3 linked regions of the Homo sapiens genome follow. The protein of the gene in region 1 purifies or fractionates together with the protein of each later gene. This does not show direct contact. Each region holds a gene or a part of one and is shown in the gene's direction. Other genes may lie near its edges. The genes, in order: MSTN, PCSK6 and PCSK9.

Evidence for each region.
Region 2: the proteins of MSTN (region 1) and PCSK6 purify together in Homo sapiens (affinity purification with mass spectrometry; one large-scale study listed by BioGRID and IntAct). This does not show direct contact.
Region 3: the proteins of MSTN (region 1) and PCSK9 purify together in Homo sapiens (affinity purification with mass spectrometry; one large-scale study listed by BioGRID and IntAct). This does not show direct contact.

The regions. Positions count from the first base shown.
Region 1 is NC_000002.12:190,057,367-190,059,863, reverse strand, and holds part of MSTN (growth/differentiation factor 8 preproprotein), read left to right. Parts: intron 1-2,225; coding exon 2,226-2,497. UniProt on the Homo sapiens protein: Acts specifically as a negative regulator of skeletal muscle growth.
Region 2 is NC_000015.10:101,487,376-101,491,207, reverse strand, and holds the start of PCSK6 (proprotein convertase subtilisin/kexin type 6 isoform PACE4-AI preproprotein), read left to right. Parts: upstream 1-1,500; 5' UTR 1,501-1,537; coding exon 1,538-1,834; intron 1,835-2,054; exon of another isoform or gene 2,055-3,832. UniProt on the Homo sapiens protein: Serine endoprotease that processes various proproteins by cleavage at paired basic amino acids, recognizing the RXXX[KR]R consensus motif.
Region 3 is NC_000001.11:55,042,548-55,046,047, forward strand, and holds part of PCSK9 (proprotein convertase subtilisin/kexin type 9 isoform 1 preproprotein), read left to right. Parts: intron 1-1,295; coding exon 1,296-1,487; intron 1,488-3,500.

The DNA.
Region 1 (2,497 bases):
TTTGCATCAAGATTTTAGAAAACAATTATACCATACTTCTTAACTTCTTAAGAAGTCCTTTTGAATTGGGAATGAAATATAAAGTGCTTTTCATTAATATGATACATGACTGTATGTATTAAAATATTAACTCTATATAGTGGATTTTACCACATAAACCAACAAATCCAAACATTATTTTTTTCTCCCAGAAGGGTGCCAAATGTGTTAAAGATTTTTGGCTTAGCATAAAACAGATAAACCTTTTAAAATTATAATTAAATGTTTTATTCAGAGAAATTAAGAGTGATATTTATAGGCTTATACTTTATTAAATATATTTAAGGTTTCTCAAGATAAATATGTTCATTATTTGTAGGATGTTGATGCACTGATGTGTGTATATATTTCTTTGTGGAATACTCCTAATAAAATTTCAAGTTACATACTAGTTAACCTTTGCCACCTAGCTTATTTCTGAGCTGCCTTAGCATTCTTGTGCAAAAATTTACTCAGGGAAGGCCGACTAATTTAGTACCAGGCCAAGTAAATGACAATACCTTATATATCACAAAAATTAATAAAAACCATTTTAATTCCTAGTACAAATTTAGGGTTACTCTTCTGGCTTACCTAAATTTCTGTTTTCAAATACTTAATGTGATCACATCTTTTTACGTTCATCTATTGATATAATTTACAAAAGAAGATTATACTTGTAAACAACAAACCTGTTACCTTTGTAATCATTCAATGATCTTAGTTATAAAGATGATATAATTAGCAGATCAGATCTACTCTAAATAAAACATTCTTTAAAATACTATACAATATTTTTTCATTTTTATTACTTTATTATATATATGTGTATATATATATTTATACACACACACACATGTTTTACTTCAATATGTTGGGGGGTACAAGTGGTTTCTGGCTACATAGATGAATTGTACAGTGGTGAAGTCTGAGGTTTTAGTGCACCCATCACTCCAAGTAGTGTATATTGTACCAAATATGTAGTTTTTAATCCCTCATCCCTTTCTGAGTCTCCGAAGTACCTTATACTACTCTGTATGTCTTTGCGTACGCATAGCTTAGCTCGCACTTGTAAGTAAGAACGTATGGTATTTGGTTTTCCATTCCCTTCGAATAATGGCCTCCAGCTCCATCTAATTTGCTGCAAAAGACATTCCTTTACTCTTTTTTATGGTTAAATAGTATTCCATGGTGTATATATACCACATTTTCTTTATCCATTCATCCGCTGATGGGCACTTAGGCTGGTTCCATATCTTTACAACTGTGAATTATGCTGCGATAAACATACGTGTGCAGGTGTCTAAAAGACTATACAATTTTCTAAATGATCTAGTTTCCTTTATATATGCTACTTTAAATGTTAATGACTCCCAAAATGATATTATTATTTTTGACAGTCTTAAATAACACTGCCAGAGCTATTTTCATTTAGATATGGGTTAAAAACTACTGTCAATTATTTAAGAAAGTGTTCCTTTTTATAGGTAGAATTTTAATGATCAAAATTGATAATATGTCCAGTGGTTAATATGTTGTGTTCCTCAGATTTTTTCATGTAAAGGGAAACAAAGTCTCAAATGCATTAAAAGATTGGGGCAGAGACAGAATCAACAAATTTTTAAATACCTGAATAGAAACATTTTCCAGTGAAAGAATAAAGGAAATATCATCGTCTCTTCTTCTGAATTTGTCCTTCCCTATTTTGCCCTGGTTTTATTGTCCAAGTTTTCCTGAGTGAGGAGGATGGATGACTATACCTAACCCTCCAGGAGTTACCAGGCATATTTAGCCAACATATTTAATCAGGAAGCAAGAAGAGAGGGAGCTGTTAGCTCTTTCCTTCATTCCCCACTTCTTCTTCTCCTCTCTCTCTCCTTTCTTCCTTCCCTCCCTTTCTTCCCATAAATATTTTCAGGACATCCATTATGTGCCAGGCAATCTGGTACTCAAACTTGGAAAAATAAAACTTAAAAAGACATGGTACTGACCTTAGGGGAATTTGTATTGCTGTTAAATTCTTTTGAGACATAAGGGGAAAATCAAGCCTAGTGTAAATTAACATTCCTTAATGCTGTGCCTTTTAAAAATAAATGTGGTATGAGCAAAATTATTAGTTTATTACTTCAACAATAACTTCTTAAGGTAGGTAGAAAAGTGTTTCCAGGCCTATTGATATTACTGATTGTTCTTTCCTTTTCAAACAGAATCCGTTTTTAGAGGTCAAGGTAACAGACACACCAAAAAGATCCAGAAGGGATTTTGGTCTTGACTGTGATGAGCACTCAACAGAATCACGATGCTGTCGTTACCCTCTAACTGTGGATTTTGAAGCTTTTGGATGGGATTGGATTATCGCTCCTAAAAGATATAAGGCCAATTACTGCTCTGGAGAGTGTGAATTTGTATTTTTACAAAAATATCCTCATACTCATCTGGTACACCAAGCAAACCCCAGAGGTTCAGCAGGCCCTTGCTG
Region 2 (3,832 bases), on another chromosome or scaffold:
CTCCTGTTCTCCCACCTCCATTAGGGGTGACTCACACCTGAAGAAATGATGAATCACGTGGGTTACAAAACCAAAGGGCTCCTGAGAGCGAGGCTGGAAAGGACCTCGGAAACCATCTATGCAGATCCTGTCCTCAGCCCATCCCCTCTCGCCCCAGCCTCTCACCTCCAGCTGCCAAGCCACAGACTCCAAGTGAATCCTGCACGCTCAACAAGAGACCGCTCCTGGAACTGACCATCAGAGAAGCAGCTTCCTTCCCACCTCAAGGCCTTCTCGACCTTTTTGTTTTACTTCCTATATTAAGCAGGTTGATGGCTTGCTTTCTGGAAGTGGGCCAGTAGGACCAATGGGTCCTGGGAGGGATGACAGAAGAGATCCAGCAGCGATCCTTACCCTTCATAATTCCTTGATTATGGTGTGAACATTTCCATCCATCTCCAGGGTGCTTCAAATCATTATCCACTGGATACCAGGCTGCTCCAGGAAGCAGGGGTGAGGATGATTCAGCTGACTTTCTACTGCTGGTCCCAGCTCAGTGGGTGCTTTTAAGAGTGTACATCGTCTAGTGAACACCTACCACACGGCAGGCCCTGGGCTCATAAAAACGAACGTTTACGGACAGCTTATTGTACAGCAAAAGCTGACCTCATCCTCAAATCAGCCCGACGGGGTAGATGCCACTGTTCCCCGCATTTTGCAGGTGGGGCGCCTGCCCTCAGCCACCACAGTCATTTGCCCAAGATCGCAGCGAGGCTAAGCGGACGGCCTGGGGGTTCACCTGCACGGCCTGGGGGTTCACCTGCGCGGCCTGGGGGTTCACCTGCACGGCCTGGGGGTTCACCTGCGCGGCCTGGGGGTTCACCTGCGCGGCCTGGGGGTTCACCTGCACGGCCTGCCTCCCAGCATGGGCCGCGGCCTCCGCCATGGGCTCCGTGCGGTGGTTTCTCGGGTACACGCTCGTGAGCCCGGCTGATGCGCCACATGCCTTTGCCCCGCTCAATGTGTCCCTTCAGCCAGGCTTGGTCCCGGGCGACCCACTGTCTTCCCCGCAGCTTCTTCTCCCTGGGACCCCGCACACGGGCGAGCCCTCCGTCTAGGGAGGCGGGCGAGGCCGCCAGGCGTCTGAGGCCCCCGCCAGGTGAGTGCGGCCTTCGGGTGTCCGGCCGGTCTAGGGAACCGGGGACTCACCTGAGACGCCGGGGCCTCCCCGCTCCCAGCAGAACTCGCGGGCCGAGGACGCCTCTGGGGCGGCACCGCGTCCCGAGAGCCCCAGAAGTCGGCGGGGAAGTTCCCCCGGTGGGGGGCGTTTCGGGCCTCCCGGACGGCTCTCGGCCCCGGAGCCCGGTCGCAGGAGCGCGGGCCCGGGGGCGGGAACGCGCCGCGGCCGCCTCCTCCTCCCCGGCTCCCGCCCGCGGCGGTGTTGGCGGCGGCGGTGGCGGCGGCGGCGGCGCTTCCCCGGCGCGGAGCGGCTTTAAAAGGCGGCACTCCACCCCCCGGCGCACTCGCAGCTCGGGCGCCGCGCGAGCCTGTCGCCGCTATGCCTCCGCGCGCGCCGCCTGCGCCCGGGCCCCGGCCGCCGCCCCGGGCCGCCGCCGCCACCGACACCGCCGCGGGCGCGGGGGGCGCGGGGGGCGCGGGGGGCGCCGGCGGGCCCGGGTTCCGGCCGCTCGCGCCGCGTCCCTGGCGCTGGCTGCTGCTGCTGGCGCTGCCTGCCGCCTGCTCCGCGCCCCCGCCGCGCCCCGTCTACACCAACCACTGGGCGGTGCAAGTGCTGGGCGGCCCGGCCGAGGCGGACCGCGTGGCGGCGGCGCACGGGTACCTCAACTTGGGCCAGGTGAGTGCGGCCGGCCCCGCGCGCCCAAAACTTTCCCGGCGGCCTCCGGCGCGCGCGAGGGGGGCGCCTCCGCAGTCCTGTCCGCCCGGCCCCGGCCCCGCGCGCGCGTGGGAAGGCTCCGGGACCGCTTGGGGACGGCGGGCGGCCGGGGCGCCCTGCGGGGGGGGGTGTCGCCCGGGGGGGCGCGCGCGGGACACTCGGCGGGGTGGGGGGGACTGGGGTCCCGCGTGGGCGCCCACGCAGGTCCGGCGCGCCGACCGCAAGTCCCCCGGCAGTGCCGCCCAACCCCGCGCTCGGAAGTGTGGCCTCAGAAGCCGGGGCGGCGCGGACACCTGCCGGGCTCCGGGGGAGTCTGGGCTGCCTCAGGCGTCGCGCGCCGTCCGCCGCTGGGTCCTGGGCGCCCACCCGGCTCTCCCCCGCGGGGGAGCGGCCCCTCTGCCCTCGACGGGCGGCGCGAGCTCCGGACCCGGTGCGCGCGCCAAGGCGGCCGCGGCCGCTGCTTGGGTGACATGAGCGTGGCCCGGCGTCTCGGGGACTCGCGCTCCCTCGGTGTCCGCGGCTCCCGGGGGTAGATGGCCGGGAGCCTGCACCCTGGAGCCCGGCCGCCGTCGGAGAGGCCTTGGGACAGCGCAGGGCCGGGGGTCCTGGGTTTAAAACCTCTCCAGGAGCGGAGGGAGGGCGCTTTGTGTGGGGGCTTCTGCCGCGGTTCTGATGGCCGAGCGGTGTGACCTTTGGCAAGTCGCTCCCCTGACAAGCTCCTTTGCAGTCAGTGGCAATGTCTACACCGCTGGGTTGTCGGAAAGATCTAATGCTGCGTTGCCACAGAGCCTGGACCGGGGCCTGACCCTCACCGGCCCCCACGGGGCCCTCCCAGCCCCGCAGCCCTCGGCTGTCCCCTCTTCTGTCAGTGAGCAAGCAGGCCACGCCCTGGGCACAAAGGCGGCATTACCCTCAAAGGACCTCCCGGCGGGTCCCTTTTTCCTCTCTCAACCAGCTACCGGGCTGAGGGGCGGTGAGTTGGGGTTGATCCATGTTTATGGCTCCTGGAGAGGCCGTTATTTTGAGGTCACACCAGGGGACCTCTCAGTGCAGTTAACAAATCTACAAACTACACACTCAGAGGGTTAAGTGAAGTGACAGGGAAGCACCGACTCATAACTCTAAACCTTAGTGCCAGGCAGTGTTAAATGTAGTTTCATCGTTATCCGTGGCAGAAGCCAGCAAGGTGTGGTGGCGTCCCTGATTGATAGAAATGACATTAGTTCTGCATCCCAAGCCCCACGTTGATGTACTATTAGGTGTGTGGCTGGAGGGGTGGATTCCACCATTCGAATGAAGGAATCTTCACAAGGCAGGTTCGAGTTTACTGAAAGAATGCTAGCACATCTTTGGAGACCTTTTAAATATATGCATATATATATATAAAATGTTACATATATACACATATACACACATACATATACGCACATGTATATCCATATAGATATTTAGTTTTTTTAACCACTCAAGGCCCTCCAAACATCCTGTGATTTCAGATTTTGCCGTCGGGTAGCACTGACTTCGTTTGTCTCTGTAGTTCTTGACTCTCCCTGGCTGATTGTCCAGGCTGAAGAAGGTGTTCCTCATGTTTGCGTAGTGCCCCTGGCTCCTGCCACACTTCGCTGCTGTGCCCAGGTGGCCCAGCAATTTGTCTTCAGCTAAAAGTGACTCTTAAACTACGCGATAAATTACAAAGTGCCTGGGTTTTGGGATTCTAAAATTAAATGAGCAGAATGGAGCTGAAATTGAGCTGTGAGCTCACACTGCAAGAGAGAGGCAGAGAGGCACAGGTAACTCTCCCCGGAAATTTCTATCTGTGGGAATAAAAATGCCTAACCCTTGGCCATGCCGCCCCTTTGAGACAACCTCTGTCAGGCTCACTGAGTTCTTAGTGCAGTCTGCTCTCCTGGTTTTGCGGATGGGAGAGAAGATTCGCCCCGATGCACACTCCGTACCCAG
Region 3 (3,500 bases), on another chromosome or scaffold:
TCTGTTCTACTCTGACTGGAGTCCAAGATGCATATATACAGAGATATGGGTGATGGGGCTGCAAGGTAGGTTGAGGTAGGGGCCAAGGAGGAGCATGGAGTTTGGACTTGATTCATGAGGCTGTGGGGAGCCAGTGAAGGTTCTTAAGCAGGTATGTCTGCCTGAGAGCAGTTGGAGCAGACAAGAGCTAAAAACCAAACAAATCACCATAGATAGTGGCTGCTATAATTTGTTTGTCCCCTCCAAATCTCATGTGGAAATTTGGTCCTCAGTGTTGGAAGTGGGGCCTAATGGGAGGTGTTTGGGTCATGGGGGAGGAACCCCTGTGAAAGGCTTGGTGCCGTCCTTGTGATAATGAGTAAGTTCTCCCGCTATGATTTCCCTTGAAGGCTGATTATTAAAAAGAGCTTGGCACCTCCCTCTCTTCTCTCTTGCTTCTTCTCTTGCCATGTGATTGATCTCTGCACATGTAGGCTCCCCTTCACCTTCTGCCATCAGTGAAAGCAGCTTAAGGCCCTCACCAGAAGCAGATGCTGGTGCCATGCTTCCTGGAGAGCTTGCAGAATCATGAGCTGAATAAATCCCTTTTCCTTGTAAATTACTCACCTTCAGGTATTCCTTTATATAGCAACACAAAAGGACTAAGACAGTGGCCTTGACTTTTCTCTCTCTTTAAGAAGTGTTGCCTTTGCTCACTTAGTCATCCCTTCTGCCTGCATTTGTAGAGCATCTGGATGGGAGATTTATATAACCGTCACTCTTGACTTTCCCAGCAGGCCTATGTCATAGGTACTGTGGTCTCTACAATACAGCAGAGGTATCTGAGGCTCCGAGAGGTTGAGTGACTTGCTCATGGCTGCACAACCAGTAAATATTGGAGCTGGAATTCAGGTCCACGGTTTCCTGGCTCCAAAGCCCATGATTTTTTCCCTCAATTTATTCTGACTGGGGCATGGGGGAGGGGGTGGCCTTTGGGCAGGGCCACCAGGAGCGACCAGGCCCGTAGAGAGCTGGGTGCAGGTACAGAGGAAAACCTGTTGTCGAGTGTGGCCCGTAGTTCCCATTTTTGCCTGAATGGCACATTTGAAAGTGTTATATAACCATGTGAATAATAATAGTTGGCCTATATGAGTTCTTTAATTTGCTTTTTGGTCCGCATTTGGTAACTTCTTTATCATCTACTATACTCTGTTGTGTCTCTTTTGTTGTAATTTGTAAGTAGGGGTGAGATAAAGTACACCTAGGGTTTGCTGGGTTTCTTCCATGTCATCATGTTCCTCCTTGCATGGGGCCAGGATCCGTGGAGGTTGCCTGGCACCTACGTGGTGGTGCTGAAGGAGGAGACCCACCTCTCGCAGTCAGAGCGCACTGCCCGCCGCCTGCAGGCCCAGGCTGCCCGCCGGGGATACCTCACCAAGATCCTGCATGTCTTCCATGGCCTTCTTCCTGGCTTCCTGGTGAAGATGAGTGGCGACCTGCTGGAGCTGGTGAGCCACCCTTTTTGGGAATGGCACTTCCTGATAGGGCTGGGCCACTGCATATACACTGGGGACTGTGCTTAGTAGGCCCATTGCTGAAAATCAGAAGGGGACAGCAAGTATGTATTGAGCACTTATCGGGTACCAAGCACAGTAACTACTGGCTTTCTGTATAGAATTCCCTTTAAGCCTGGCCATGCCCCAGTGGTACGTCTATCTTCATTTGAAAGACGAGGAGACTGAAGTTCAGAGGGGACCACACAGACAGCTAGGGGTAGAGCCTGGATCAAACCCATTGGTCTGCCTGCCAGCCATTCTTGTGCCAATGCATCTGCTGCCTACGGAAACCTGTAGGGACAAGGCCCTGGGATGTTCAGTGGAGCCTGAGTCATTTTATAAAAAAGCATGACTCTAGGGTCCAAAATTCCTTTGAAGCTGTTGCTATCCAGAGTGAAGTCCCTTCTTTAGGACAGGGTGGCCCTCCTCCCTCCTGGATGTCACATCTTCGGTGGAGGGGCAGAAAGGGGACTGGGTATTCTCCTCACCCTGGCCCTAGTGCTTCAAATCTTAAAAAAACGTTTTTATTTGTGCTTCTGCACCACCTTCTAGCCCACCTCGTTTCCTGGCCTCTAACTTGATGAGAGCGTGTGTCATTTTCACACTGATTCTCCACATGGCAGGCGGTGCTTCTTAGCCTCCTGCAGACAGTGAGGCCCCACGGTCTTGTCCAAGGTCACACAGCGTGTAATGGGCAGGGTCAGAGTCTGGAGTCTGGACCTGGGTCTCCTAGCTGCACTGCACTGCTGCCCCATGGGTTAATCAGCTCAGCATACCGTGGCTGAACAGCTACCTCATACCAAGGCCTGTGGCGCCATGACAGGGATTGACAGGGTCCCTGCCTTGGAAACCCGTAGTCTAAGTAGAGGAGACTGACAAGTCAATGCCTTCCATCAGTCTGCTCAACACACGTTTACCAAGTGCCTACTGTGTGCTGCAGAGGCGAAGATGACACAGCTCAGGCCTTTCCCTTGAGCTTACAGTTCAGGAGGAGAGACTGACCAGTGACTGCCAGTACAGTTGACTATGGGACAATGTGCTCAGCCTTGGGGAGAGACGAAGAAGGTACCCGTATAGCACCAGATGACAGGCACGAGCCCCACAGGCCAGGGCAGCTGCTCAGAGGAGAGTAGGCCAAGCAGAAGGCAAACAGAAGGCTGCAGGCATTTGCCATCGAGAGCTGGACTTCAAACTGGGCATCATACCAGCCTGGGTTCGAGTCCTGCCCAGCCCCTTATTGGCTGTCTAACCCTGAGCAAATCCCTTCACCTCTCTGAGCCTCATTCCTCTATCTGTAAACCAGTTATAATAATTGGAACATTCATTTAAGGACTAAATGAGGTCGTGAAGCATTCAGCAGATGCTAGGTACGGAAACTCGCTGAAGTGGGGGCAGGTTAAGAAGCCTCTGGGGATACGAAGGCATCCAGGGACTAGTTGTGGCAGGAGGCTGTTACCACTTAGGTCTGAAGGGTAAGGAGAGGGAATAGCTTTCCCTCTGCCCAGTTGGAGCCGGTGGCATGGAGGAGAGGCTGCCTGTGGGGAATCACCCGAGGGTTCACCGCTGCCATGCGCAGGGAGTCAGGAGGTAGGGAGGGAGTGGGGCAGATGCACACCATTTTTTTTTTTTTTTGAGACTCTGTTGCCCAGACTGGAGTGCAGTGGTGCCATATCTGCACCTCTGCCTCCCGGGTTCAAGCTCACTGCAACCTCTGCCTCCCGGGTTCAAGCGATTCTCCTGCCTCAGCCTCCCGAGTAGCTGGGACTACAGGTGTGTGCCACCATGCCTGGCTAATTTTTGTATTTTTAATAGAGATGGGGTTTCACCATGTTGGCCAGGCTGGTCTCGAACTCTCGACCTCAGGTGATCCCCCACCTCGGCCTCCCAAAGTGCTGGGATTACAGGCGTGAGTCACCGCTCCCAGCTGCTGATGCACTCTTGTCCTTCTAACTCCTGCTAGTGCCT